Homo sapiens: one gene and its partners. The protein of the gene in region 2 interacts with the protein of the main gene of each other region in a pairwise test. Each region holds a gene or a part of one and is shown on either strand. Other genes may lie near its edges. The genes, in order: PLIN1, AQP7 and MEP1B.

What was found.
Region 1: the proteins of AQP7 (region 2) and PLIN1 interact in binary tests that used the Homo sapiens proteins (3 or more experiments, as listed by UniProt).
Region 3: the proteins of AQP7 (region 2) and MEP1B interact in a protein complementation assay, tested with the Homo sapiens proteins (one study listed by IntAct).

What each region holds. Positions count from the first base shown.
Region 1 is NC_000015.10:89,667,420-89,677,180, forward strand, and holds part of PLIN1 (perilipin-1), read right to left. Parts: intron 5,996-9,761; coding exon 5,791-5,995; intron 4,146-5,790; coding exon 4,063-4,145; intron 2,826-4,062; coding exon 2,561-2,825; intron 2,254-2,560; coding exon 2,081-2,253; intron 375-2,080; coding exon 183-374; intron 1-182. UniProt on the Homo sapiens protein: Modulator of adipocyte lipid metabolism. Coats lipid storage droplets to protect them from breakdown by hormone-sensitive lipase (HSL). Its absence may result in leanness. Plays a role in unilocular lipid droplet formation by activating CIDEC.
Region 2 is NC_000009.12:33,398,620-33,408,651, forward strand, and holds the start of AQP7 (aquaporin-7), read right to left. Parts: upstream 3,950-10,032; 5' UTR 3,754-3,949; intron 3,530-3,753; exon of another isoform or gene 2,902-3,529; intron 2,669-2,901; 5' UTR 2,644-2,668; coding exon 2,618-2,643; intron 1-2,617. UniProt on the Homo sapiens protein: Aquaglyceroporins form homotetrameric transmembrane channels, with each monomer independently mediating glycerol and water transport across the plasma membrane along their osmotic gradient. Could also be permeable to urea.
Region 3 is NC_000018.10:32,198,563-32,208,323, forward strand, and holds part of MEP1B (meprin A subunit beta isoform 1 precursor), read left to right. Parts: intron 1-4,330; coding exon 4,331-4,448; intron 4,449-5,619; coding exon 5,620-5,798; intron 5,799-8,689; coding exon 8,690-8,908; intron 8,909-9,556; coding exon 9,557-9,709; intron 9,710-9,761. UniProt on the Homo sapiens protein: Membrane metallopeptidase that sheds many membrane-bound proteins. Exhibits a strong preference for acidic amino acids at the P1' position. Known substrates include: FGF19, VGFA, IL1B, IL18, procollagen I and III, E-cadherin, KLK7, gastrin, ADAM10, tenascin-C.

The DNA of each region.
Region 1 (9,761 bases), on a different chromosome or scaffold from region 2:
TCAGCTGAGAGAATGACATGGAAGTCCCTCGCCAGCTGGGCATTTGGGGGTGGGGTGAAGGGTGTTGCACGCACATGCCGTGCCCCTGCATCTGGGGCAGAGGCCCTGAGTTCACCCTATGCCTCTGCTTCTCACCCCTTCTGTGGGCTGGGGGACCTTGAGGCTCCCACTCTCCCCCTCACCTCACTGAACTTGTTCTCCTCAGTCTCCAATTCTTCCTCCTCCTCCGTGTCCTCTCCCTCCGTGTCTGTCTGGTCCTCATGATCCTCCTCCTGGGCGGCTGCGAGGCTGTGCAGCCAGGGTACCCGCACTTCGCTCCTCCGCCGGGACACCGCCTGCATGGCCACTGAGGCACCCCACTGGGCCAGGCTGCTCTGAGGGAGGATGGCAGCAGATAGCTGGCTCAACTGCCCCTGCTGAAGGCCAGGGAGCCCCAGCAGCCCAAGCCCCTCGCCCCCAGGGTCCGGGCCAGGTGGTGAGCAGGGCTCAGCCCCAGCAGACTTTTCTGGAAACTTTTTATTGAGTTGGTAATCTACATACACTAAAGTGCACACATCTTTAGTGTAAGCTCTATGAATTTTTATAAGAACACACCTGTGTAACCACCACAGATCAAGACATAGACCATTTTCAACACCCAAAGACTCCCTGTGTCCCCACTCAGTCCACATTCCCCCAAGAGTGACCACAGTCCTGCTCTCTGTCACCATGCCTTAGTTTTGCCTATTTTCGAACTTCATGTAAGTGGAGTCACACCATGTGTATTCATCTATTAATAGCTCCTTTAGTTAAATATGATGGTGTAAGTTTCACCCATGTTGCTGCAAATGGAAGTAGTTCCTTCTTTTTCATTTCTGTGTAATATTCCATCATACGAATTTCCTGTAATTTACCCATTCTACCGTTGATGGACATTATCATCGCTTCCAGTTCTTAGCTAAGGATATTGCTGATCTGAGCATTTTTCACTTGTCTTGGGAGACTTAAGTGCTCATTTCTGTTGGGTATACACTTAAGAGTGGAACTGCTGGGCCATAGGATATATGTATGTTAGCTTTGGTAGATACTCCTCCCAGATCTTTTAAGAGTGAAAAATTCAATGAACCAGAGTGTCCCATGGGAAGAAATTGACTGAGCAAGGGGGCTGGTATCTCCTGAGGCACATTCTAAACCTCTAGGGAGCCCCACAAACAGAGACTCCTTATTACACAGCTTTTGGGGATGCCACTCTATTCCATGCGAATGGTGGCACGTGAGGTTCTGCCCACTGCAGGCGGGGTCCAGGCATGTGACTCAGTCTCAGCTGTTATTGATGCAGGGGACAGAGGGGAGCTACTACTCCTGTATTCCTGCAGGGGCAACACTTGCTTGAATGAATGATCCACGCCTGATGATGCTTTTAAAAGTACTGCTCAAAAGATGGCTGAAAAGTAGTCATCTTGTTTGCTGGCCTTTATGCTTTAGTATTGTTTTATTTTCTTTTCTGGCCTTAGTTTCTTACTAAAATTCCTTATGAAAAACATCCAGCCTATTTCTGCTAAGATACAGAGAGGTGGAGGTGGGGAGTGGTGGGGAGTGGTGGGGAGTTAACTCTCCCTGGGCCTAGAAAGGGCAACTTCACCTTGGGTGCATTGGTGCTGGGTACACTCTCCCTGACAAAATGGGTTGTATACTTTGTTTATTTAAGGATGACAGTCCCTAGTGCTTGCATAGCAGATGGAGGTCCTGCTGTCTTATAGGTGGGAAGACCCATAGAAAGAGGTCCACTTGGGGGTATGAAGGCTGGGGCTTGTGGGAGACTCAGAGGGAAATGGGGGAGATAGAAGTGAGTGGTGGGGAAGGAGCACTCTAGCAAGGCAGGCCTGCCCTTGCTTAACATCCTCTCCCTTCTCTTTCCCTGTGGTCTGGAAGGCCATCCCTCTACCCCTCTCAAGTCCTCTTAGAACTGAAGCCCCAGCCCACGTTGGAAGAGAGAATGTTCTCAGGACAGGAAGGGGTGATGGGTGGGGGATGGGAGGGACTAGGAGGCCCACAGGGCTCCCAGGCACCGGGTCAGTCAGAGCTCACGGCAGATACTTACCAGGGGCACCACGCCTGGGATCCACATGGCCACGGTGTGGCCCTGCTCCAGGGCCCGGGCCATGGTCTGCACGGTGTATCGAGAGAGGGTGTTGGTCAGAGCCCCAACCCTGCTCAAGAGGCTTGGCTTGGCCTTGGGAGACTTCTGGGCTTGCTGGTGTCCAGGAGCAGGGGCTGGGTAGGGATTTGGGGGGAAAGAAGAGAAAACAGGTCAGAGAGGGGCCGGAGAGATCTGGGTCATGTCTAGGACTGGAAAGTAGGTGTTCTAGGTCCACCACAAACTCACTGGTGAGTTCCACAACTCACTTTCCCTCTTTACAGATGGGGTGGGGGTGGGGGGGGTAAATGATTATGAATCCATCTGAAAATCCCACTGGCCTTCCCTATTCCAGAGCAGTGGCTGGTTGAGCCACCTCCTGCTGATTCCCAGGCAGTGTGTGTGACAACTCACTCCCAGGCCGAGCCTCCGAATGGCAGGTACCTGACTCTTCCTTGTCTGGAGGGAGGAGGTACTCCACCACCTTCTCAATGCTGCCCAAGGCCAAGTCGGCCCCTCCAGAAGCCAGTCGGCCAGCTCGAGTGTTGGCAGCAAATTCCGCAGTGTCTCTGGCCACCCCCCAGGCAAGCTCGCACCCGGCCAAAGCGGCCCCCAGGACCTTGTCTGAAGTGCTCGCGATGGGAACGCTGATGCTGTTTCTGGCACTGCGGAGGCGGGTGGAGATGGTGTCCTTCAGCTCAGAAGCAATCTGGGGGAAGTTGGTGGGGGTGTTAGGCATGTGGTCTTGCAGGCCCTACAAGGGCTGCCCTTCCGGGGTCTGGTGGCCTGAGCCCAGCTCCCAGGAAGGCATCACCTAAAGGCCCAGGGAACTGGTACTGATATTTAGGTACCTGGAATTAAGCTGGGCTTTAGAGGAGAGGGCTCCAACCTTCCCTGTGCCAACTGTTTGGATCTCCTGGCTTCTTCACCCCGCATCACAGCCTGTCAAGATCCCTCCCATCCTGTGAGGATGACCCCAAAGGCTCGTCCTTGGTGCCACCTGTCCTGATACCCTTGGGCTCACAAGGAATCTCCTCCATCCTTTCCTCAGAACACAGCATTTCTGTTGATTTATAGGTGTGCTTGATCTTCCTACAAGTTCTGCACTGAAATAATTTGTCTTTTTCTTCATTATTCTGGGAGCTCTTTTGTGACAAAAATGTTGCCTTTTATCTGGAAAAATGGGGAGCAAAGAGCACAGGTCTCACAGCTGAATAGACCTGCTCTCATTGTCCCCACTTAAGGCTGTGTGGCCGTGGGGGAGACACTGGTTTCCTCTCTGTAAAATGGAGATAACAACCCCTATCCCAGAGGGTTGACAAGTGGATTAAAGAAGAGCGCTTGATAAAGCATAGGTGATGGCCCCGGGCATAGGGTAGGGCTCAGTACCTGTTTGTGGGAAGGGTAGATAGTTGGTCAGTGAGATAGATGAGGTCAGAGACTGAAGCTTATTCCCCAGAAGCACCAAAAATGAGTCCTTATCATAGCAACTACCCAATAAATATGTAGCCAGGTAAAGTGACCTTCAATCTCATGGTCCATAAAAGGTTGGATCTTGAGGATATGGGATGACACTCCTGGGATCTGAATGAGTGTGACTCATGATCTTAGGCAGCTGTAGTTGCCAAGTGGTCCAGGGCAGACTATGGAACCTCAGATCCCAGGGTGCGGTATCGGGAGGCAGTGGGACCCGCCTCAAGCTCCTGTTTGGGTTTGCCTCTGGGCTCGTGCCTGCTGGTCCCAGAAACCCCACCTCCGTTTAGCTTCACAGGGAGAAGAGGAGCCTGTTGTGTGGCCTTGGGAGCAGGCACTCTCCGCCAGCCTTGGAGGGTGCTCACCATGGGACACAGACTTCCAGTCACGGCATCAGCAGCCCCTGCCCTCTCCTCCCTGAGAGGCGGTGACGACAGAGTGCAGGGAGGCTTCGAGAGGTGGGAAGGGCTCACCTTTTCAGGGGGGTACTGGAGGGCGGGGATCTTTTCCTCCAGGTGGTCCAAGCCTCGGCAGGCCAGCTCATTGGCAGCTGTGACTGGAAGGAAAGGGCCAAGTTTGGGTGAGCCCTGCCCCTCCCCATGAGAATCTAGCAGTGGCTTCTGTGCCAAGGAAGTGACTTGGAGCCCTCAAATCCCAAGGCCTGCTGCCTCCCCAGCATCTCTGGGCCCCAGGCCCTTTGCCCTCTTTCGCCCTTGTCTGCAGGGACTCCTCAAGACCCGGGCCAGTTTCTTCTGTCTGTGTGGGAACTCTGGAGTCGCTCAGACCTGCACTCAAAAGGCCAAGTGACCACATCTAAGAAGCCTGTGGCCTCAGCTAGTCACAGCCTGTCTGAGCCTCTGCTTCCTACCTTGTAAAAGGTGAATTAATGGTGCCTGCCTGGCAGGATTTTTGTGAAGAAGAATGATGGGAGCTATATGAATCACCAACAAGTACCGTTCTTTCCCTCCTTCTCTTCCTTCCTGACCTGCAAGGGGGCTCTGAGTGAGCATGAGGAGGGAGAAGAGAGGTGTGAGAGGGAAGCAGATGGCAGTGAGGCCTTGGGGCTGGGCCTGCTTAGCTATCAACATGACAAACTCCCAGCACAGCCAGTGCAGGCCCCAGGCCGTCCATGCTCTTCTTTTTAACCACTAGGTGTTGAGATGGTCAACTGTCCGAAGAGGGTCACAGGGAAGGGAAAAGAGTTGCCCCCGGAGAGTGGGCATGCATCAGAGATGCACCTGCTTCAAGGGGATCCCGCCTGGATTGGCCGGGACATCGGCTCTGCAGCCATGGCCAATGGGGGCCACAGCTTTCAAGGAGAGTTCTTCATACTCTTTCATATATTCTTTTGCCAGATACCTTATTTTTCTTCACAAAATTCTCAAGCAGCAGAGAGCCCAGATGACTTGGCTGTCTTCCAGTTGGGCAGAATGAGACTCAAGGAAACTATTTAAGGAGATTGTAGCCAGGGACAGGGCCTGGGCCTACTTCACATCGGTCCTCTCCTGTTTGCTGTGTGGAGTCCTCAGCTACCCATAATTCTGTAATTAGGATGGTGGAAGGTACCAGACTTTTTGGCATTGCTGCGATTTCCCTCAGCCCTGTGTATGCCTTGGAGACCACATTTTCAGATGGGGCAGAACAATTTGAGTGGTGCACATCTGGTAAGGCCAGTAGGAGAGCCATCTTCTGCCTCTAGGGCCCTGGCTGGAGGCTCTCTGCCACCCCCACCCGTCATGAGCCGCTACCATCAGCTGCTGGGCTCAGCCAGCTTTCCCCTCCCTCCGTGCCCTCCGGCCCTGCCAGGCCCCCTAGTGCCGGCTGCCTCTGCCTCTGCCAGACTCTGCTGGTTCTTGCTGCTGCTGCTGCCTGTGCTGCGACAGTGAGTGTCTGGTCTGCCATGGGCCCTACCCTCACCACTGCCTGCACAGCTCTGCCTTCCCTTCCCCTGCAGATTCTCTGGCCATCATTGTTATCCTAGGAAAATGCCAGCTGGGCCATAGATAGGCATCTATAGAAGAAAAGAGATCTGTATGTATACCTTTATAGCCATAGATAAGAAGACCATGCAATGGGATGTGGGCAGTTAAGCAGACAGACAAGCAAGTTATCAGACAGTCAGACAGACTGAGAGGCGGACAGACAGACTGGAAGGTAGGCAGTGAACAAGCAGGCAGCTGCTGAGCGCCGCAAGGACTCACACTGGGTGGACAGCCTGCGGACCACCGGCTCCATGCTCCAGGCAGCCAAGCTACTGGCGCTCTGCACGCCCTTCTCATAGGCATTGCACACAGAGGCCACCAGGGGGTGGGCTTCCTTAGTGCTGGTGTAGGTCTTCTGGAAGCATTCGCAGGTGCCACTCACCACCGGCAGCTGCAGGACCCGCTGCAGCACATTCTCCTGCTCCTGGTGCGGAAGGAACACATTCAAGTTGTCCCACCTCCCTCTCCAGCCTCCCGGGAAGCTGACCCCGGGGTCATGGGGACCAATGGTGCAACTAGCCTGAGTCCAAGCGACCTGGGAGGAACCAAGGCCAAAGAGGTCTCTAGATGCCCCAATCATGGGAGCGTGGGAGAGCCCATGGGGAAAACAAGAGTCAGCCGGCCATGTCCTCCTGGTCACCATCCGGGGTGCTGGAGAGCTGCCAAGGCAATCTCTGTTCTCCAGGGACCAAGTCAGATCCCATCACTCCCACCCCCACCTCAGCTCACTCCCCTGATACCTACTGGTAGAGAGCAAGTGTTGTTAATGTCTAGAGTTTTAGTCCACCTTTGATTGGTGGCTTCTCCAAACATTTTTCTGGTCTTTCTGGGGTACTGCCTCCCTGCCTGTGTATCCCGACCCCACTGCCTAGAACGCTCACCTTCCCTCCCACAGCCCTTGCTGCCTGGCAGAATGCCATTCCTTCAAGACTCTGCTTGACCAGCACTCCCCCTGTGAAGCTTCCAGACTCTCCTCCATCACGTCGGAAACCACTCCCTCCCTGGCTCTCTCCACATTCGTCACACCGTGCTGTGGTTATGTGTGTTCATCTCACTCCCCGTAGACTGTCATCTCCGCATCCCCAGAGTGTAGGCCAAACATGGCACAGTAATATTAGCTGAATACGTGAACCACAGTCAGGGCTGTGCCTAGTAGAATGTGTAGGTTTAGATCTGCCCAACTGCACAGAATCACAGAATCTTAGGGGACTTTGTAGTAAGAATCCTTTCCATCCTTCCTCTGGTCGACTTGTATTTGTTTTTATTTATTTATTATTTTTTATAGAGACAGGGTTTCACTCTGTTGCTCAAACTGAAGTGCATTAGTGCCATCATAGTTCACTGTAACCTCCAACTCGTGGGCTCAAACAGTCCCCACACTTGTGCCTCCTGGGTAGCTGGGACTACAGGCCTGTGACACCATGCCTTGCTAATATTTTTATTTTGTAGAGGAGGGGTCTTGCCGGTCTTGAACTCCTGGACTCAAGTGATCCTTCTGCCTCAGCCTCCCAAATCACTGAGATTATAGGCCTAAGCCATTGCGCCCAGCCAAGACTTATATTTGAATGTCTCCCTGAATGAGAGCTCTCCCCCTCACAAAGTGGCCTGTGTCCCTTGTTGGACAGCTTTGCTGAGCTGAAATTTGCCTCCACCCCCCTGTTCCACACTCTGCCCTCTGGAACAAAACTGAGCAAACCTATTTCCTCATCCATGGGTTGGCCCTTCACATATTTGAAGTCAAATATGTCTCCCTTTAGAAGTGCCGCCATCATGTTAAATGGCTCCAGTTCCTAACTTCGTTTACAAATGGTTCACACTGTGGTCTGGTGACCCCCTCTCCTGGACATGCTACAGTTTTACATTATCTTTCTTAAAAATATACTACCCTCGCTTGAGCCCAGGAGTTTAAGGCCAGCCTGGGCAACACAGGGAGACCCCGTCTCTACAAAAAAAAATAATAAATAATAATAACATAATTAGCAGGGCATGGTGCTGTGTGCCTGTGGTCCCGGCTACTCGGGAACCTGAGGCGGGAAGATCGCATGAGTCCGGGAGTTGGAGGCTGTAGTGAGCCATAATCACGCCACTGTACCACAGCCTCGATGACAGAATGACACCCTGTCTCAAAAAACAAAAAACAAACAAACAACACTCAAAGACAGCACTCTGGGTGCGATCTGCACGTGCTGGGTGTAGTGGAACAATCGTTTATCATTTCCGGGGTGCTGTGCTGTTAGTAATGCACCTTTGGCAGCAGTCACATAATTAAGTTTTAGGTCACCTAGGAACCTTAGTGAAAAAACACTGGTCTTTGAGTAAAAGAATGAATTCTAGGGCTAAGTGTAGAAGCTCATGCCTGTAATCCCAACACTTTGGGAGGCTGAGGCGGGAGGATCATTTGAAGCCAGGAGTTTGAGACCACTCTGAGCCACAAAAAAAAAAAAAAAAAAAAAAAAAGCTGGCCATGCTAATATTTGATGGCATGTGGACTACACAGTCCCAGCTGCTGGGGAGGCTGAGGTGAGAGGACTGTCTGAGACCAGGAGTCCGAGGCTGCAGTGAACTATGACAATGCCACTGCACTCCAGCCGGGGTGACAGAGCAAGACTCTATATCTAAAAAATAAATAAATAAAATTAAAAGAACAAATTCTAGGCATGCAGAGGGAAAGAACATTTGCCAGGTGCCATTATGCTGCAGGCACTGGTCTGGGTGCCTTGGTGACATGAGCTCACTTAATTCTAACAGCCATCCTCTGGGGTCAGCACTGTCACCAACACTGAGTCGATGAGGAGATTGACAATCAGAAACAGGAAGTGATTTACCCAAGATCCCACAGCTGATAAGTGGCAGAGCCAGGATTCCAACACAAGTTGGAAATGGCCTACCTGGGATTACCTTCAAAATAACATGAAGTGGGGGAATTAATGGAAGTGAGGACGAGGCGGGATTGGCCACGAATTCATGGTCTTCGGGGCTAATAAAGGGTACGTGGGGCTTCCTATGTTCTTTTCTGTCTATTCTTATGAATGTTGAGAATTCTCCATATCAAAAGTAAAAAGAAAAAAAAACCCAGGTCAGATTCCGATGCTCAGGCTCTCTGTAGCTTTGAATATGACACTGTGGCATGGTTTTGCTCGCAAAGTGAAGACCTGACCTGTTCTGTTAGTAGGAGGCAGAGTTCAAAGACCCCCATCAATGACACCTACATGTACACTAAGACAGAGCAGCCCACAATATCTTAGTTTTTTTTTGTTGTTTGTTTGTTTGTTTTTTTGAGATGGAATCTCGCTGTCTCCCAGGCTGGAGTGCAGTGGCGCGATCTCAGCTCACTGCAAGCTCTGCCTCCTGGGTTCATGCCATTCTCCTGCCTCAGTCTCCCAAGTAGCTGGGACTACAGGCGCCCGCCACCATACCCCGCTGATTTTTTGTATTTTTAGTAGAGATGGGGTTTCACTGTGTTAGCCAGGATGGTCTTGATCTCCTGACCTTGTGAACCGCCCGCCTTGGCCTCCCAAAGTGCTGGGATTACAGGCGTGAGCCACTGCACCTGGCCAATATCTTAGTTTTTTATCCTGCAGGTGAATTTGAAATTTGAACTAGAAATAGACTATGACTATAAACAAGAAAACATTCTTTTTAACATTTTGGACGAGGCTTCAGAGGTTGTTTTACACAAAACCGAAGGAGGAAAGAGATCCTGGGAAGGGAATAAACCACCGTCTGTTAGAATGGCTTAACCATGTACTTGACCATTTTACGCCTCTCTCTGTTCTATGATTCAATACAAAACAAAGTGATTCCTAGTGCAGGAGTTAGTAAAAGCGTAACTTGGGCAAGGTGGATATTGCACAGGTTCATAATTTTTAAGTTTCACTATCCGAACTGTGCCCAAATCTGAGATGCCTTGCCAGGAGCCATCAAGCATCCCTAAAAGTATCAAATCACTTCAAGTCACAGTGAAAACCAGGTCAGAGATAGAACACCAGACACATGGAATATCCCACCCTTCCCCCCACACAGCAGCACAGGCTGTGCACCGTCTAACTCCGACAGGTGACATTTGCCGTTATGAATGATGCTGGAGACACAGAATACAGTGGCTCTGCACTGAATGCACATCCAGCTGGGTGGTGGACAGAGCATGGGCTTCTGCGTCAGGGTTTAAACAGTAGTTTCCTTCCTCTCCA
Region 2 (10,032 bases):
GTGGGGCGCAGCAGAGAAGCTGTGGGAGAATGGACAAGGAGGCCCTTTCTGGGCATGTTGAGTGTGAGGAGCCCGCTAGACACTTGGGTGGGATGGCCAGTGAGGAGGCAGCTGGTCATGTGGTCTCACTTACAGACACATTTGGAGGACAGCAAATCACAGATGGTCATCTGAGCCATGGGCATAGATGAGAGAGCTCAAGGAGAGGGTACAGACTAAGAAGAGGGGCCCAAGAAAGCCAGCCTACAAAGCAAGAAACTGGCAGCCAACCAGATTCCCTAAGTAATCTGCTAACCAAGGAACTAAATAGCTAACAGCTCACTAAAAGCCTGTTTCTTTTCTTTTTCTTTTTCCTTTTTTTTTTTTTTTGAGACAGGGTCTCACTCTGTCGCCCAGGCTGAAGTGCGGTGGTGGCACAGTCACAGCTCACTGAAGCCTAGACTTCCCAGGGTTCAAGCAATCCTCCCGCCTCAGCCTCCCAAGGTGCAGGGATTTCAGGCATGAGCCACCACGCCTGGTGGCTTACTAACCCTTTGACTAACCTATCAAAAACCAACTAACTGATTCTCCTGTTAACCAGCTATTAACTCATTTAATTATCTAATCAACCAGCCAACCATAAACTATCCAACTAACCACGAGCCAACAATTCAACCTGCTAACCAACATTTCTTAATTCAACAAACATTGGTTGGCCAGGCATGGTGACTCATGCCTGTAATCCCAACACTTTAGGAGGCCGAGGCAGGTGGATCACTTGAGGTCAGGAGTTCAAGACCAGCCTGGCCAACATGGCAGAACCCCATTTCCACTAATAATAAAAAAAAAATTAGCTGGGCATGGTGGCAGGCACCTGTAATACCAGCTGGGGGGGGAGGGGCTGAGACATGAGAATCGCTTGAACCCAAGAAGCAGAAGTTGCAGTGAGCCGAGATCATGCCACTGCACTCCAGCATGGGCAACAGAGCAAGACTCCATCTCAAAAAAAAAAAATTTTTTTTTGTTGAGCATCTACTTATGAGTCAAGCACCAGGGATACAAAGTCAAAACCCACTCTCCACCCTTGGGTCACTCTGTTTAATGGAAGAGATGGGTAATGGCAACAACACCAGAGAGAAGCAGCCTGGGACTGGGGGAGCTCAGGGAAGGCATGGGAGGTGAGGCCTGAAGGGGGTTTTGAAGAATGGGCGGGTGGTGGCCTGACATGGCCATGGGGGAGTAGGGTGGTGGTAGAAAGAATGGTGGAAGCTGTGCACATTCTAGATATTTTAGGAGATTGGTGACTGGATGTGAGACATGGGGGAGAGGGAAGTATGAAGGACATGACCTTGACTTCTGGCTTGAGCAACTGAGGAGAAGGGGACCCCTGACTGAGCCAAGAGCACAGGAGGAGTGGACTTGCAGGGGGCGGAGGAGGCTGTTTCCATCTAGGAGCTGAGTTGCCTGTGAGACACCAGTGGGTCTCTAGAAACAGGATCTAAAGCCCTGGAGAGCGATGTAGGCTAGAGGCAATGATGTCAACAGAGTGGCACTATTCATTCTCTCCGTCCAAGTGTACAACAGGCAAATATCCCTGCTTGCGTGGAGCTGACAGCAATGAAATGTAATAAGTAAGTACATTTGTATAAGCGAAGGTACCAGCTCCTACGGAAAAAAACAGAGCAAGGAGAGGGGAATTGGGAGTGCAGGGGCTGGAGATGGGGTGTGATTTCAAATAGGGCAGCCAGAGTAATCCTTGTTGAGAAGGTGGCCTTGGAGCAAAGCCATGAAGGAGACGAGAGTGGGCTGTATGTTAGCTGCAGAAAGCCTCTCAGGTGGAGGGAGACTAGTCACCAGAGGACTCTCAGCATGTTTGAAGAAAGCAAAGAAAGTCAGTGTGAGGCCAGGTGCAGTGGCTCACACCTGTAATCCCAACCTTTTGGGAGGCCAAGGCGGGTGGATCACCTGAGGTCAGGAGTTCAAGAACAGCCTGGCGAACATGGCGAAACCCCATTTCTACTAAAAATACCAAAATAATAATAATAATAATTAGCTGGGTGTGGTAGTGTGTGCTTGTAATCCTGTAATCACAGCTACTCAGGAGGCTGAGGCAAGAGAATCGCTTGAACCCGGGAGGAGGAGGTTGCAGTGAGCCAAGATCATGCCATTGCACTCCAGCCTGGGCGACAGAACTGGATTCCATCTCGGAAAAAAAAAAAAACCTGAAAAGAAACTCAGTGTGGCTGGAGGAGGGAGAGCAGGGGGCTGGAGTGGGGAGGCCAGAAAGCTAACAAGGCTGGGCCTTGGCCATTGCAAGGACTGGCTCTTGTTCACCCCAAAGACAGCTGAGCCTGAGAGGGTGAGAGGTGCTGAGTGCAGTTGAGTTGAAGGCCACCTGCATGCCTTGACCCTCATCCAAGTATTTCTGAGCCTCCCCTCACCCCAGGACCCAGCCCAGGCAACAGGTGGAAGATGCTCTTCTTCTGGGACCTCAGAGGCGAGTGGGTGGGTGGGGAGGAGGAGGTCGAGTGGGGACAGCTGCCCCAAGGGAGAGGCTGAGGATGGAACAGGGAGGGCACTGAAGTGGGCTGGGTGAAGGACAGGGGGCTGGAGGGTGAGAAGAGGGTGGGGTACTTACCGCCTGTGCCCGGATGCTTGAACCATGTTTTGTCTTTCAGATTTGTAGATGCTGAGGAGCCAAAGAGAGGTCACTAGGGCTGGAGGACACAGAACTTGGCCCCACACTTCCATCAGACCTTGGTCCCCAGGGGAGAAGCCCTGGGGCAGCTCCTGCTAGTGCCACTCCCTTAACCCAGCCAAGGAACAGGGAGGGAGGAGCGGTGCTCAGCCAATGAGGCGACGCCCTGGAGCCCCACCCCACCCATGCTGGCCCCAGGACCCCAGCCCCAGGCCAGACCCTCCAGTGCTCCTGCTGACCTTCCGTGTCTGCAGCCCGGCTTTGGACTGTGGAGATGCCCTCAGCCTCTACTCAGTGGCTCCAGCCTCATATTTGCGTGCTATACCTTTAACCTCAAGTCCTCTTGCTGCTAACTTAAGCTGCGACTGTCCAGGACCTGCACACACACACACATGCACGCATGCACACACACACACACAGAAGGTGAACACACAGGATGAGGCCCTGAAAACTCATTTCACCCGTGTACCTCACCCAAAAATTCCCCTTTGTACTCCTATCTTTATCTCTAACTGACAGCATGAAGGTAGCCCGAAGTCCCCTCACCCTGTCTGTCCTCCTGATTCTCTAGCCCAGTTCCCTCTAGCTCCAGCACAGACTCTTATCTCCAGCCCTGACTGCCGAAACCCTCCAGCCCCAGCTCCAGCCCCTCAGGAGGGGACTGCGTGGGAGGAATGACTCCAGCAAGCCGGCAGCTGACCCGTCTCCTGCCTGCACGCCTCCCGCTGTGGTCCACTGCCGGTGGTCTTCAGCTCTCTCCTCGTCCCACCCCCATGGTCTGCTGACAGCCCAGCTCAGTGCATCCCTGCCATCTCTGCTCTACCGCTGGTCCTCCCAACAACCAACTTACAGGTAAGGAAACTGAGGCCCAGAGAGAGGGTGTATGTGCCTGTGTCACACAGCAACACAGGACTGCACCATAACAAGAAAGCCGGGACTTCCACTCCCAGACGGGGCTCCTTCCCCAAACAATCCCTCAGTCACCTCCTCCCTGTATGGTACCCAGGGAATGGCCCTTCCAGATCTGGGCGCTGAGGAGGCTGCCCCATCCCCACCCTGCCTGGAGCCCCACTCACTCTGCTGAAATGTCTCTGATTCTCAGCCTCCGCCTTGGGGGCTTCTCAGTTACAGCGCATCTTGATCTTGTTCCTCCGTGACTGTCCCTGGCTCAGCTTCCACCCCCAGCTGGGGCTCAGCTATCCCTGTGTCCCCAGTCCAGAGCCTGCCTCTCAGCTCTCCCAGGGCGGCCTCGAGCGCTGCTCCTGCTCCTCCAGGGGAGAGGTCAGTAAGGCAGGGGTTTGGCTGGTGCCACTTGAACCAAGTCCAGATGCACTGCCCAAAATAACATCCCTCGTCCGGCCAGCAGTGCCGTGGAGACCGAGTTCTGAAGCAGGCCTTTGTGAGGTCAGAGGTGGAGCTCTGGGTGGGCACTCTGGGCCTCTCAGTCCCAGAGGAAAGGCCTGTCCTCCAAGCCAATGTGCAGCCTGACTCTGGGGCCAGCGCCTGAGGAAGCCCTCCCTGAGCCCCAGCCCTGGGGAAGGCTGAAGAGGCCTCTGAGCCCCCAGCGCTGGGGAGAGCTGTGCAGAATAGGACTGGAGGTGGAAGTGTTGGAGATTAACAGCCAGGTGGAGGGGACGGGGGAGGCCCTGGGTCAGTCCTCAGGGAACCCCCATTGTGAAGGGGGAAAGGGAAACTCAGGCCCAGTCCTCAGGGGCCCCCAGTCTGAGAGGAAGGAGGACACACGAGCCATATTTGCAGAGAAACACCAGCCTGCGAGAGGAGGTAGAAGCCCAGGCCTGGCCCTCCGAGGGCCCCTAGTCTGAGGAGCAGTCCACCTGTCCTCGGGAAAACACCTCCCTTAGGAAAGGCCAGCAAGGCCCCCGTAAAGGACCCAGAGCTGGATCGGGACATCGGGCTCGGGGCTCAGCGGTGTGGGAGCTCCGGGACCGAGGTGCAGTCAGGAGAGACCCTGGGGGCCAGCAGCAGTCCCAGAGGACTTTTGGAGCCAAGGCCTGACTGGGTCTCAAACAATGGGGCAGGCAGTTTGGGGTTTCAGCAGGTGGCCCAGTGCTGAGACACAAGGGAGGTGTTTCTGGTCTGCAGACACTGAGGACGCTTGCTATGTGGCGTGGTGGACGGTGGGTAAGTCCTGGGAACTTCCGGCACCAGGCTCCATGGGTGGGAAGGGGCATAAGATTCAGTTGTCCAAAGCTCAGGTCTGGGAATGGAACTGTCCTGTAGAGGGTGCCAAAGACCAGGTCTGGAACCTGCATAGCCCCAGTCCCCACCCCTGCACACACCCTCCCACCCCTTCCAGCTTTTTCTGCAGATCTTTCTGCAGGGGTGAGGCAGGGAGAGGAAGGGGTCGGCCACAGTCCCGGGGCTTCCTAGTCAGAAGCCCTCTGTAAGGCACTAACTTCCCTCTGCAGATTCTTTTTTTTTTGAGACGGAGTCCCGCTCCGCCCAGGCTGGAGTGCAGTGGCACAGTCTTGTCTCACCACAATCTCTGCCTCCCAGTTCAAGTGATTCTCCTGCCTCAGCCTCCCAAGTAGCTGGGATTACAGGCATGCACCACCAAGCCCAGCTAGTTTTTTTGGATTTTTAGTAAAGACGGGGTGTCACCATGTTGGTCAGGCTGGTCTCGAACTCCTGACCTCAGGTAATGCACCCGCCTCGGCCTCCCAAAGTGCTGGGATTATAGGTGTGAGCCACTGCGCCCGGCCTCCCTCTGCAGATTCTACGTGGGCTCAAGATTCAGCCTTTCTTCCTCAGGAAGGGAGGGGTGCACGCTTGGAAATGGGAGAGTCCTGCCTTTTTTCCTTTCCCATGTGTGCTCCCAGGGCCGGGATGAGGTCATGTTAGAAGTGGATCTGGGGTCTTGGATGAGGTCAGCACTTGGGCAGAGTTGGAATGGGCTGGTGTCAGGTTGGTGAGGGAGGGAATTGGGATCCATGCTGGGGTCAGAGATCAGGCTCTAAGCTCTTTTACAGGGCTTGACCCTGGGGACTGAGAGGTGGAGAAGACACAGTCCCATCTGTCTCACGGCAGAGACAGGTAAGCAGCAGGTGACTTAGGACACACCAGATAGGCTGGAAGGAATACAGACGGGGCTATCCCAAGCTGGAGGGGTACAAGGGTCTTCCGTTAGAGGTGACGTGGGAACTGAGTTTTCCAAAACGAGCAGGGGGATGGGGCACCGGGGCATTTGAAGCTTGATGGGATTGTGAGAAAACCTGGGAACTGCGAGTGACTTGCAGAGGGCTGCGGAAGTGGGCAGGGATAGACCATGAAGGGCTTTGTCAGCCAGGCCAAGGAGTTCTGACTTTAACCCGAGGGCCTGAGGAGCCTGCAAAGGGTTCTAAACAAAGAGAAGAGCAACAGGGTCAACCTGAGGTCCCTGAGGCCCCAGGGCATCCAGCAGGCAGAGGCGCAGTTGGGCCTGGGCTGGGGAGAGGAGTCTAGCTGGAGAAAGAGAAGAGGAGATATCAGCCCCTGGACATTCAGCACTAGAGTTGCTGGGGCTGCCCAAGAAGCACAGGGAGTGAGGCAAGGGCCAGGGCCAGGATTCTGGGGAAGAAGGATGACGAAGAAGGAGTGGGTGTGGAAGGAGCTGGAAACCCAGACACAGGGCTGCCCAGAGGCTGATGGGAGCCAGTAGGGGGCTGTTGCCCCAGAGTTGGGTGCTGGGAGGGGCTGGCCAGGCAGGTGTTTGCAGACAGCTGCCTGGATGAGCTGGTGGGGATAGAGGGTGGCAACAGCACTGAAGAAGCAGAGGCTGAGGAGGCAGAAAGTTCAACTGCAGAGAGAAGAGAGGCAGCTAAAGGGGCCACCAAGGTGGGAGTTTGGGTCAGAGCTGTGAAGCATGTTAGTCTGCACAGAGCCTGCGGCGGGGGGTCTCTGGGTCTCTGAGCCAGTGGAGATAGTTGGGGGGCAGAGAGGGAGGGGACACCCGGGGTCCTTTCTTCATAGGATGGGCTTGAGTAGAGTTACCAGATAAAATATAAGATGCCCAGTTAAATTTAAATTTCAAAGAAACAATATTTGCCACAACCTTATACCTGGTATACCTTTGGTCTAAACTCAGGCCCTCTTGATGCTTAAACTGTGACTGTCCAGGACCTACACACACACACACACACACACACACACACACACACACACACACACACACAGAGTTTTATTTTTAGCAAATAAAAATATAGCCAGGTGCATTGGCTCACTCCTGTAATCCCAACACTTTGGGAGGCTGAGGTTGGTGGATCACCTGAGATCAGGAGTTCGAGACCAGCCTGGCCAACATGGTGAAACCCCGTCTCTACTAAGAATACAAAAATTAGCCAGGTATGGTGGCAGGTGCCTGTAATCCCAGCTACTCAAGAGGCTGAGACAGGAGAATTACTTGAACCCAGGAGGCAGAGGTTGCAGTGAGCTGAGATGGCACCACTGCACTCCACCATGGGTGATAGAGTAAGACTCTGTCTCAAAATAAATAAATATATAAAAATAAAACAAAATACTTTTTTATTTTATTTTATCTTTTGAGCCAGAGTTTCGCTGTTGTCACCCAGGCTGGAGTGCAGTGGTACAATCTTGGCTCACTGCCACCTCCACTTCCCGGATTCGAGTGATTCTCTTGCCTCAGCCTCCCGAGTAGCTGGGACTACAGGCATGAGCCACTACACCCAGCTAATTTTTGTATTTTTAGTAGAGATGGGGTTTCACCATGTTGGCTAGGCTGGTCTCAAACTTCTGATCTCAGGTGATCCACCCGCCTCGGGCTCCCAGAGTGCTGGGATTACAGGCGTGAGCCACCGCACTTGGTCTAAAATACTTTTTTCATTCAAACATTTGTTAAGAATATCTTTCTATGACAGTAGGTCCATGTCCACCTCATGCCTGTTGTACAGCATTCCACCTGATGGAGATTATATAATAAGGAATCCTTCTATTGATGAGCGTTTAGATTGTCTCCAATTTTAAATGGACCCAACACTTCTCTATTGTGAACAACATGGGATAAACACAATTGGCTGAAACTCAATTAAGGATGAAAATGCAAATCGAAATTTTAAAATATCAGAATGAAGAAACAAAAATGACTAAAGGTGCTAAAAACTGTCCCCGAATGTCCCCCAAAGTGTTGACACACGCACAAAAACTAAACATTTTGATTAATTATTTGTTTCAATCAACATGCCATTGGATTAACTTATCACAAAAACTGCTTTTCATCACGCTGCTTTACACTTGTGGTTTTTCCGACTCTTTCGAGCCACGGAATCCTTTGCATAACTCAGGAGCCCATGGTATAAACAAGCAAGGAAGGAGCCACTCTGGTTCCAGGCGCAGGGGTGGGGGTAGGAGGGCAGGGCAGGTCCCTCAAGGAGCCCTGGTCTCTCTCGAATCATCTGAAGCCATGAAGGTTCTCAGAATGCCCCAAAAAGAAAAGACACTTAAGCCCCACCCAAGTAAGCATCTCCTTCCAAACTCATTTTTCAGGTAGGAAAACAGATTCAGAGCAAGGTAACAACTTGCCCAAGATCACCTAGAACTAGAACATCCAGACCAGGGCTCTGGCTCACCCCAAGGAGACCAGGGTTCCCCTACTAGGCGGCGAGGCTGGGGAGGGGCAAGGGCAGAGGCAGGACCCAGGAAGGTCTTTAACTCTCACACCCACCAATTACCAGAACTCCCCCTCGCCCCCCGCCCAGGCTCTCATCCTTCTCAGAATCATCCATGGGCCTTCAGGACAGAGCAGATGGAGACCAAGGCAGACAGGATCAGGCACAGCCACTTGTCCAAGGGCAAAGATCCCCTGAAGTCGAGAACCCAGAATTCCAACCTAGGCCTACTCCATCCTAAAAGAGCCTATATGGAGCTGCCTAACTTGGCATCTGAAACCAGGGATTGAGCTCAGACTTGTCACTTTCTAGTATGAGCTGGAGCTATCAGGGAAGGCTTCCTGAAGGAAGAGGGGTCTTATTAACGGAAGCAGCCAGGGAGACAACACTGAAGAAATTTGCATGTGTGAGAAGCATTTGTGTCTTTGTATATACCTATATGTGAGCATGTGCCTGTGTGGATGGACAGGTGTGTGTGTGTGTGTGTGTTGTGTATGTGTGTATGTGCGCACACATGCATCTGCTTATGTGTGTCTGGTCTTGCACGCGGAAGCCTCTCTGTAGTGAGACACACACACACACACACACACACTCCCCAAGTTGTGCACACGTGAACATGCGACCATTCTTCCAGGTTAATATTTCCCTGCCTGCGTCAGCACGGTCCCAGTAAGTGAGCAGCTCCATGCAGGAACGTGCCCTATCTGATCTGGTCAGGGGCTGTGGGTCGGGAACAGGGGGATTAGGGCGGGCAGGGAGCCCATCTCAGTTTCCCCCGGGCAAGCTGCACTCTCTCCACTCTCCTGCTCAGCCAGAGAAAGGAGGTAGCCCCAGTGTAGTGTGACTGCCCGGTCTCCCCACTCACGCTGGGGACTCCCTGATGGAACAGCCTCCTTGCTTGCCTCCACATAGGCCAAGGCCAGCCGTTCCCTGAAAGACCCTCCCGACTCCCTCATCTCTGCCCAAATCCTGAGGCCTCTCTATGCATAGTTGTCCCCTTAAGGGCAAACAGGGAGCAAAGACCCTAGGAAATGCTCACAATGAGCCCCTCCCTTCAGCAGGAAAGCAGCTTTGAAATGTCCAGGTGAGCCAGTGGGAAGGTGGGATTCAATTGGCAGCTTTCCAGGAGAACAGTGATTGCAGCAAGGGCCTGTGCAGAGATCTGTGTGGTCAGGGTCTGGGGTACCGGCACCCACGGGCATTAAGCTTCAGCCAGGAAGGCTTGGTGGGACATGTGGGCCCCAGGGAGAGTGGCAACTCCCTAGATGCTGGGCCTCTCCCTGGGTTGATGGAGAACCCTCCCATGCCTGCACTGGTCCCTGGGGTGCAGGCTGGGCCAGGCTGGGCTGGGTGAGCAGACACTGTCTCTTCTGCTTTTGGGACAGCCCAAGGGCTAGCGTGAGTCAAACCCAGGTGTCCTGGCTCCTAGCCCAGCTAGAGGATGCCCCAGTGCTTCCCTGAACGGGAGGAGAGAGAAGGCTGGAGCATGGACAGAGGGAGACACTCACCGCTAAGGCTCTTCCCACAGCATAGCCCCTCTGCCTCCACCTCTCTCAGGCTCCATCTCTGGGTGGTCTCCTCTCCACCCTAGGGGCACATTAGGACTTTCATAGGCCCTTGGCATTTTTTTTTTTTCCTAGAGACAGGGTCTCGCTCTGTCACCCAGGCTGGAGTGCAGTGGTGCGAACTTGGCTCAGTGCAACCTCAAACTCCTGGGCTTGAGCAGTCCTCTCA
Region 3 (9,761 bases), on a different chromosome or scaffold from region 2:
TTAGCCAGATGCATCACGATCTGCTAAGTCCTGAAGAAGGGAGAAAATCCTGAGCTGGAATTTAGATTGAGAGTGGGGAGCTAGGAAGTTGAGCAGGTAGGCGGAACGCAAATGGGGAAGGACTTGGGTCTTCCCGGTGTTAAAGAACTTGTCGTGTATACTAATAACATGGGGCCACCAAAAGTATTATTGTGGAAGTGAGATTGTTAAAATTGCAGTTTAAAATAATCACTTGGGTTGAAGTATAGAAGATGTGTCATTAGTGGGGTAAAAAGAAGATAGGGAGACCAGTTAGAAAACTACTGAGGAAATTCAGAGAAAGAATTAAGAGATTCCTAACCAAGATAAATCTAAAAGCTATTTGGGATGCATTTGTTAGATTTAGTGATTGACTGTAAGAGGTCAAGAAGAAGGTGGGTGTAGAGAAAGAGATTCTAGTGCTCAGGATTCAGTCCTGGGTAGCTGAGGGCATGGTAACGTCTTCAACAAGAATGGAGAATTTAACCTTGAGGAGCATGAGACAGAGAAGCATGGTGGAAATTAGTTTTTGGCATGCAGAATTTGAAATGCATCAGAGTCACTGTGGTGGAGATACCAAATAAATTCTTGGTATATGACCTGGTCATTCAAGGTCGAGAAATGTTTGGGAGTTATTAGGATGTAAGAGATGGTTGAAGCCGTGAGTATGGATGAGCATTTCACACAGTGCCTTGCATAGAGCAGGTGCTCCATAGATAACTGGATTTTATTGATTTATCCTGGAAGGTTGTGTTGAATAAGTAAGAAGATGGTCGAGAATGAAACTCAGTGCCATTTTTTGGAACTGGTATAGAAGGAAGATCTAGTGGAAGTTATTGAGAAGGGGGAATTGGCCAGAAACATAGATAAAAAACTAACAGTAGGGTAGGGAAAGCCAGGGCAGGAGTAGTTAGCGGGGTTGGAAGCCATAAAGAGCACAGGGGGCATGAGGAGAGAAAGATGTTCATTGACTTTTGGAATTAGGAACCTGAAAGATTTTGAATATACATGTTTTTTTGGTTTAGTCTTTTGATTAAAAAATTTTTAAGTTCTTTTGTTTTAATTCTTCCTTTTTTTCCTTTCGTTCGTTCCTTCCTTCCTTCCTTCCTTCCTTCCTTCCTTCCTTCCTTCTTTCTTTTTTGAGACGAGTTCTCACTCTATCACCCAGGCTTCAACCTCTGCCTCCCAGGCTCAAATGATCCTCCCACCTCAGCCTTCCAAGTATCTGGGACCACAGATGCATGCCACCATGTCCAGCTAATTTTTTGTATTTTTGGTAGAGATGGGGTTTCACCAGGCAATCCACCCACCTCGGCCTCCCGAAGTGTTGGGATTACAGGCGTGAGCCACCACATCCAGTTATATTTCTTTTTTTAAAAAACTTATTCTCCTAAGTATGTTCCATGAAAGATTAGGGAGCTTTAATTTTATATATATCTTAGGCTATTTTTTTTTTGCCATGTATTTAACCATGAGCTTTATTTATTTTTTAAACAACATTATAAACAACATAATGAATGCCTTGAGGATAAGAGCTATTTTTCATCTTGCAAATTGGAGGATTACCATAGTCTCTGGCGTATTATATGTAATAACATTTTTGAAATAAATTGATAAGCATATGTATATATATAAATGAAAAATGTTAGGTAAAAATTCAGCCTAGATCCTACCATCCAAACTGTGCACATTTTTACATAGTTATAACTATGATGTCTTAAATCTTTTGTTCTAATTTTTTCACTTAATGTTATTGCATTTTTTCATATTGTATAGTCTTTATAATAGAATCAAACTTCAAATTTTTATAGAACAATTTTTTTCAATTATGTGATTTTGATTATTTCTTATTTAGAAAATACTTTTGTTTAATATTGTAGAATTCAACTTGTTTTCTATGTTCAAATTAAGAAAAGTATCCTTACGTTTCAGAAATGTATACCATCTTCAAATGACTCAGACTAAGAAAATTACTAAGCAAGGCCACTCTTACAGGTAGCAAAAATAAATACCTATGAAGGGTTGATTTCTGGAAGGCCCTATTACTCAGATTCTAGTAGGTCAAACTGTGAAATTCTACCAGTAGGGTTGTAGTCTTTGAGCTTGAACTTCAGATGTTACCTGGCTGGTAGATGCAACTTCCCTGAAAGGAGTAATACTCATAGCAGCCATTTATAGTTTCCAGGGCCTAAGTTATAATTCCTTGCCTTAGCACCAAGGCAGAAAAGGCAGTGGGGGAGGCTGAGGGTAAAGAGTTGGGGATGGAAATGAAGGGGAAGGTGCTAGAAACCTGAAGGGGCTACTAAGGGGAAACAATCCTGAACAGCTGCTTACTGAACTCCTAGGATTGCCAGCAACTTGCCTCATTTTCCAAAGCCTGGCATGGTTCCAAGTGGAGCTTTCTGCATCTATAACGCAAGGTTAACTAAGGCCCTCAGTAAATAAAGGCATATGGAAAACAAAGATCTTATCTTGGTAAAGGGCCTCAGTGTTTATAAAGCTTTCACGTGTTACTTTATTTATTAATTCAAGAAACTATCCTCATTAAGTTTTGATAAATGGCCTAAACTAGTATGCTCTTTTACATTCTGTTTAAAACAGTGATATGGTGGTCAGTATTATCATACCTTATTTGAAGGAAATATTACATTTGAAATAATGACCCAAATATGATACTTATAGGACAGAACATTTTGAACGTTAACAGCCATATGTAGATACACACACACACACACACACACACACACACACACGGCATACTATTTCAGGGTGTTCATAGACCTTCCCATCTCAGCGTCCTCGGATTAAAAGCCCAGCTGTGAGGCTTTAAATACATATTATAGCTTCTCAGATTAAGTATGTGGTGGCAATTTATTTTGATTGCCTGTGATCCAATGTCCAATGGATCCAATTTGTAATCCTCTATTCATTAAAATGATAAAAAGAATAATGATGAAAAAATATTTTGATGACATAATATTTAGTGAAAAAATAGTTGGTAAAATGCTATGTAGATGACTTTATTTTTTATAGAAATATTAACATATGTATGTTATATATGTATTCAAAGGCAAAATGTATGGTAAGGGTGATTGATTATTCCTGGATGATAGGATTTTAAATTTCTTTTTATTCATATCAATTTTTAACTTATTTATAACGATAGTGTATTACTTATGTGGTATTGTAAAAGTCTGAACTTAGTGCCTTTTACAACTTATGGATTTTAGGGTCTTCCCTATGTGAATCCTGTTCTTGATCTTCTTAGACCTGCCTCAACAGAGGCATACCAAGTAATCTTCCTTGAATGTCTATGCAATGGTTACTCTAGAAGGGAGAAAGGAAATGAACATTTGACAAATGCTAATTTTACTTGGAACTTCACCTTTACTTTCTCTTACTATCCTCACAATATCCTGCAAAGTTGATTTTATTTCCTCACTTAACTGATAATAACACCAAAGCTCCAAAGGTTGATTGAATTGGCAAAAGTTTTATGTCAAAAGTGAGTGGTGAGGATAGGGAAGAACTTAGGTGTGTCTGGCTCCAAAGTCCAAGCACTTTCCCCTCTGCCATACTGTCTCCCACCTCCTGGCAGGCTCCCATCTTTCACGTCACTAGGACCTGGCCCATGTGATGCCTCTCCATGTGCATCTGATACAGCCCGTTCCTCCTGGTCACTCACAAGTTTCTTTTCCTGCATGTTGTTTCTTCCACACCTCTGCCTTCTTTGAGCTCCATATCCATATCACTCTTATATCCAGAGCATTGGCTCTTACCCTTATTTTGGGCCCTGAACTCACTTGCAGACCTCATGAAAGCTCTCTCTAGAAAATGCACTTTGCATTTGTAGATATGCACACACACACATACACACTTTGCATACTATTTCAGGGTATTCATAGACTCTCCCATCTGAAGATCCTCAGATTAAAAGCCCAGCTGTGTGGCTTTAAATACATATTATGGCTTCTCAGATGAAGTACGTGATGGTGATTATTTATTTTGATTGCCTGTGATCCAATGGATATGTTCTCTGAGGTAAAGATGCATTTTTATTGTTTAGTAATGCACCATTAGTGAGTGAGTGCTAGAGAAATATAAGGCCAAATAAGGGATCTGAAGAATAAGCAGATACTGTATATGATATTCAATGGGTACTGAATTCTAATTTTTGTAAAAATAAAAGACTCAACATTCATGAAGGGACTAACTCATGATAAGCAATATATTGCAGTGGCCTGCTTCCATGGAAGATTTTTCAGTGGTGATTGTTTTAATAAGCTTATTTTTGTTTGTTTTCTTCCTTCAGAAATGAATGCTAAGGGAGTTATCCTCAATGCATTTGAACGTTATCGCCTTAAAACATGTATTGACTTTAAGCCTTGGGCTGGAGAAACAAACTATATATCAGTGTTCAAGGGCAGTGGGTAAGTTGCAGACTTAGTCTTCTAAGGCATCTAAGGAGAACTCTAGTGCCTGGGACATTACATTGCAGCAATCATCCTAGGCTCTGACCTTTAGGAAGGGGTGGGGACTTTCTTGCTAGTTGCTGGAGAGTAAAAAACAACTGGATCTAGTTTTTGTAGACATAGAAATTATATTCCCATACATGTAACCGCCTTTAGACAAAGTGGAAAGTGGATGGGATTGCATGCCATCAGACCCACAACCTTGTGAATTTCAGCCCGTTTGTAATTTACATACTCTTTATCCCTTTCAAGTAAAAAACATGTGTATTTATGTGTGTCCATGTCTGTGCTTAAGCTTATTTTAACCTAACCACTCTTATTTCTTGGGTTAAGAAGGCGACAGTATTATTTGTCTTGAGCTCAGCAATTCTGAGTGGTTGCTGTCCCTGTAAAACCCTTGTTAATGGGCACAGGCATAACGAGGAGCTCAAAGACTTTGAAATTCACAAGAAAAACCAGGTCTAGACCACCTTGAGGACGATTTGCTCCTATGTAATATTTGGTGTTAGGGCAAGTTCTTTAAAGATCACCTGGTCTGTAAGGTTTTTTAATATTATACAATACCTGGTATATTAGGCCATTCTTGCATTGCTGTACAGAAATACCAGGGACTCGGTAATTTATACAGAAAAGAGGTTTAACTGGCTTTCAGTTCTGCAGGCTTTATAGGAAGCATGGTGTTGACATCTGCTCAGCTTTTGGGGAGGCCTCCGGAAGCTTATAATCATAGTGGAAGGTGAGGGTGGAGCAGGCATGTCGCATGGCAAAAGCAGGAGCCAGAGAAAGAGTGGGGAGGGGGAGGTGCTACACACTTTTAAATGACCAGATCTCATGAAAACTCACTATCGCGAAGACAGCACCAAGCCATGTGTGGTTCGTCCCATGACTCAAATACCTCCCATGAGGTCCCACCTCCAGCACTGGGAATTACAGTTCAACATGAGATGTGAGTGGGGACAATTGTCCAAACTATGTCACCTGGGTTATGAGAGAAACGCACAGTGTTCAGATGTAAGAGCAAAGGTGGGTAATGAAGTGGGTAATGAAGTGGACTAGGCAGTGGCGATTCTGCCCTGAGACCTCAGATTGTAACATTCTCTTCCCCCTTTCTTGTAAACTCTCCTGTAAGCTGCTGGTCTTCAGTAGGAAATAGGCGGGTTGGGAAGCAAGAACTTTCCATCGGGGCAAACTGTGACCGAATAGCAACAGTTCAACACGAGTTCCTCCACGCTCTGGGATTCTGGCATGAGCAGTCGCGTTCTGACCGGGATGACTATGTCAGGATAATGTGGGACAGAATTCTGTCAGGTACATTTCTCTTTTTTTCCTATGTTTTTAGTTAAGGACTGAATTTCTAAGCATGTGTCCTCTCTTGTCATCTGTGGCAACTGTTAATAATTTTAAAACTTTGATGTTTTGATGTCTTAATTCATTCAGCTTGAACTCATTCTGAGTTATTGGAGCACTAGTATTCCAGAACCCATATGAGCTAGATATGCTCTAGAAACTGGTTTTGTGGTTCTTAAAGCATATTCAGTCCCACAATATGTTCATGAGTATTATGTGGAACGGAGTCTGTGGCCAAATTAGTTTTGCAAATCCCCAAGTCTTAGTCCATCTTGCACTGCTATAACAAAACACCACAGACTGGGTAATTTATAAAGAACTGAAATTTATTCCTCATTGTTCTGGTGGCTGGAAAGTCCAAAATCAAGGGGTGGGCATTTGATGAGGGCCTTCTTGCTGTGTCACATACCATGACAGAGGGCAGAGGTCAAGGGAGAGTCAGAGAGAAAAAACAGGACCAAATCTGTCCTTTTACAAGGAATCCACTCCTGCAGTAGCAAACCTACTTCTGCAGCAATGGGATTAATCCATTTATGAGACGGAGCCCATGCCCTAATTACCTCTCATTAGGCCCCACCTCCCAACACTGTTGCACTGGGGATTAGGTTTCCAATACATGCTTTTGGGGGGACATATTCAAGGCATAACACCTAGGTTAAAAGAAATTAGACTTACTTATCCTGCTATACTGCTCTGAGTGTTTATTGGGTTGACAGGAATTGTAAATCTCTAAGAAAAGGAGCATTTCCCAAAATGATTTGATCATGGTCTTCTTTTTTCTTTTTGCAGAGTAGCTTGTAGAGTATTTGGATTTATTGTTTCATGGAACAATTTTCAGTAATAGTTGAGTAGCATGAACTGTTTGTGATTTTGTGTTCAAAGTCACAAAGTCTTAATAACTATGTCTGACTAGAGCTCATGTTTTCCACATTCCACAGTGACACTCAGCTTCCTCATCTGTCCTGCCTGTGTGGGGCGAGACAGAGGAAAGGGCATTGCTATTATGTCTGAGGCACTGTGAGGAGTGCCCTATACAAGGTCCCCTGACACCACACTTCTTGAAATCACAGCTCTTGCTCTTTATCCCCCGACTCTGCTTATCTCAAATGCGGTCAGGCATAGCAGCAAACTAAAAGATTTCTAGAGAAACAGCAGTGTTTAGCTTTAATCCACAGCCACACTCCTTAGGATTCCCAAAGTCTTATTTTTGATCTAAACTTCTGCTCACATTTGATAACACATCTTTATGTTTTGGAGATCAGAACCACCTTAAAGTGTCCACAGAATCATTCCATTTCAAGTTGAAATCAGTTGCCCATTAGTATAATGCTAAATGGCCTGAATGTCTTCTCTAAATATATTCATTTTTGTTTTTTATTATTATTTTAAACTGACAAATCATAATTGTATATACTTATGTGGTACAGTGATATTTTGACATGTGTACACAACGTGGAATGACTAAAACAAGCTACTTAACATAGCCATCACCTCACTTATCATTTTTATGGTGAGACATTTGAGGTTTATTCTCTTAGCAATTTTGAAATATACATTATTATTAACTATAGTCATTATGCTTTATTTATTTATTTATTTTGAGACAGAATCTCGCTCTGTTGCCCAGGCTGGAGTGCAGTGGTGCGATCTTGGCTCACTGCAACCTCCACCTCCTGGGTTCAAGTGATTCTCCTGCCTCAGCCTCCCGAGTAACTGGGATTATAGGCGCCCGCCACCACACCCGGCTAATTTTTGTATTTTTAGTAGAGACAGGGTTTAAACATGTTGGCCAGGCTGGTTCATTGTGCTTTAAATACATCTACACCTATTCCAGTAACCATGAATTATGGTTAGTCAATAACTGCATGTCAATGCTTTTTAATGACTCCTCTGTAGGATAACTAGAAAGTTATCATTCCCAGGTTTCATCTCACCATCCCTTCAAAGCCTTCTTACTTCCATCTCCATCTACTGTGGACGTCCTCAGCCTGCCATCGTTGCTGGCCAATGCCCTGACTGGTTCAACAACACTTTTTTTTTTTTTTTTTGAGACAGAGTCTTACTTTGTCACCCAGGCTGGAGTGCAGTGGCGTGATCACAGCTCACTGCAGGCTCGACTTCCCAGGCTCAGGCAATCCTCCCACCTCAGCCTCCGGAGTAGCTGGGACTACAGGCATGCACCACCATGCCTGGCTAATTTTTAAAATATTTATTTTATTTTATTTTATTTGAGATGGAGTCTCATTCTGTCACCTAGGCTGGAGTGCAGTAGTGCAATCTTGGCTCACTGCAACCTCCGCCTCCTGGGTTCAACCAATTCTCCTGCCTCTGCCTCCTGAGTAGCTGGGATTATAGGTGCGCACCACCACAATGGACTGATTTTTGTATTTTTAGTAGAGACAGGGTTTCACCATGTTGGTCAGGCTGGTCTCGAACTCCTGACCTCATGATCCGCCTGCCTCGACCTCCCAAAGTGCTGGGATTACAGGCGTGAGCCACCACGCCCGGCCTTAAAATATTTATTAGAGATGAGGTCTCACTTTGTTGCCCAGGCTGGTTAGCAGCACTTTCTAGAATCCTCCTTTCCACGAGCAATTTTTACAGCCTTAGACTAAATGCCAATGTCCTAACTATGGGCTGCAATAGAACCTTAGATATGTTCAGTGTGACTGCTGGTATCACAGTTCTAAGCTTGAATATTATATTGTAAGATGGGAATAATGAAACTGTTGTTAGTTGTAGCAAAAATTGCTTGAGTTTATTATATTCTCCATTTCTAAGTGAGCAGTATTTGGAGTAAGATAAGCTGAATTTTGTGAACATCAAGTAAAGATTTTTTATTTATCCTTTAGGCAGAGAGCACAATTTTAACACCTATAGTGACGATATATCAGATTCCCTGAATGTTCCCTATGATTACACTTCAGTAATGCACTACAGTAAAACTGCATTCCAAAATGGAACAGAGCCGACAATTGTCACAAGAATCTCAGACTTTGAGGATGTGATCGGCCAACGAATGGATTTCAGTGACTCTGATCTCCTAAAGTTGAATCAACTGTATAACTGCTGTATGTGACAGGTTCTTTGAAATGACTTATATTTTCCGCTGTTATGTAGGAAAAAATGATGGTCTGTGCCATTTTGTCAAGCATTGGTGGGGTTTCTGCGATTATAGAGATTTGATATTCAGGAAATAAACAGAATAGCACTCAGATCTCAATCTACAACTTGGAAGCAGCATTTTTCTTTTCACCACGTCTGGTGTTGAGATCTAAAAACAAATTGGGTCCTGTAGGAATATGCCTCAGGCAAGTTTTTAAAGCTGTTACTAATTCAAACCTCGGTCAGATTGATACTCACACTTCCTTTTAGCCAAAATGATATGTCTAGTTGTAATATGAATGGGATCAAATAATCTGGATTGTGGCTTAATGATTCGAATAACTAGGGGAGTATAGACTCAGGTTTCTACAAATTAGAAAATTTTTTTTAAAAAAGACTTCAGGCAGGGAGCTTATTCAGATCTACAGAATTCATTACCTTCTTTGTAGGGGTTCTGCAAATAAAGAGGGATCTTTAAGCCACCATCATCCAGAATCAGCTAGGTGTTCCCTGTAATACCAACCTGGCATTTCTAATACTGTGATAAGTTCAGTTTTTGTTACTTAGATTATCATGTTGTATGAGTGTCAATAATTGTTTTTTGCTTTTTGTAGCCTCTTCCTTGAGTTTTATGGACTCGTGCAGTTTTGAACTGGAAAATGTGTGTGGCATGATCCAAAGTTCAGGAGATAATGCTGACTGGCAACGGGTTTCACAGGTTCCCAGGGGGCCAGAGAGTGATCACTCCAACATGGGCCAGTGCCAAGGTAACAGGAGTGAGATATTCCTAGACTGTATACTCAGTGGCTACAGCCACAT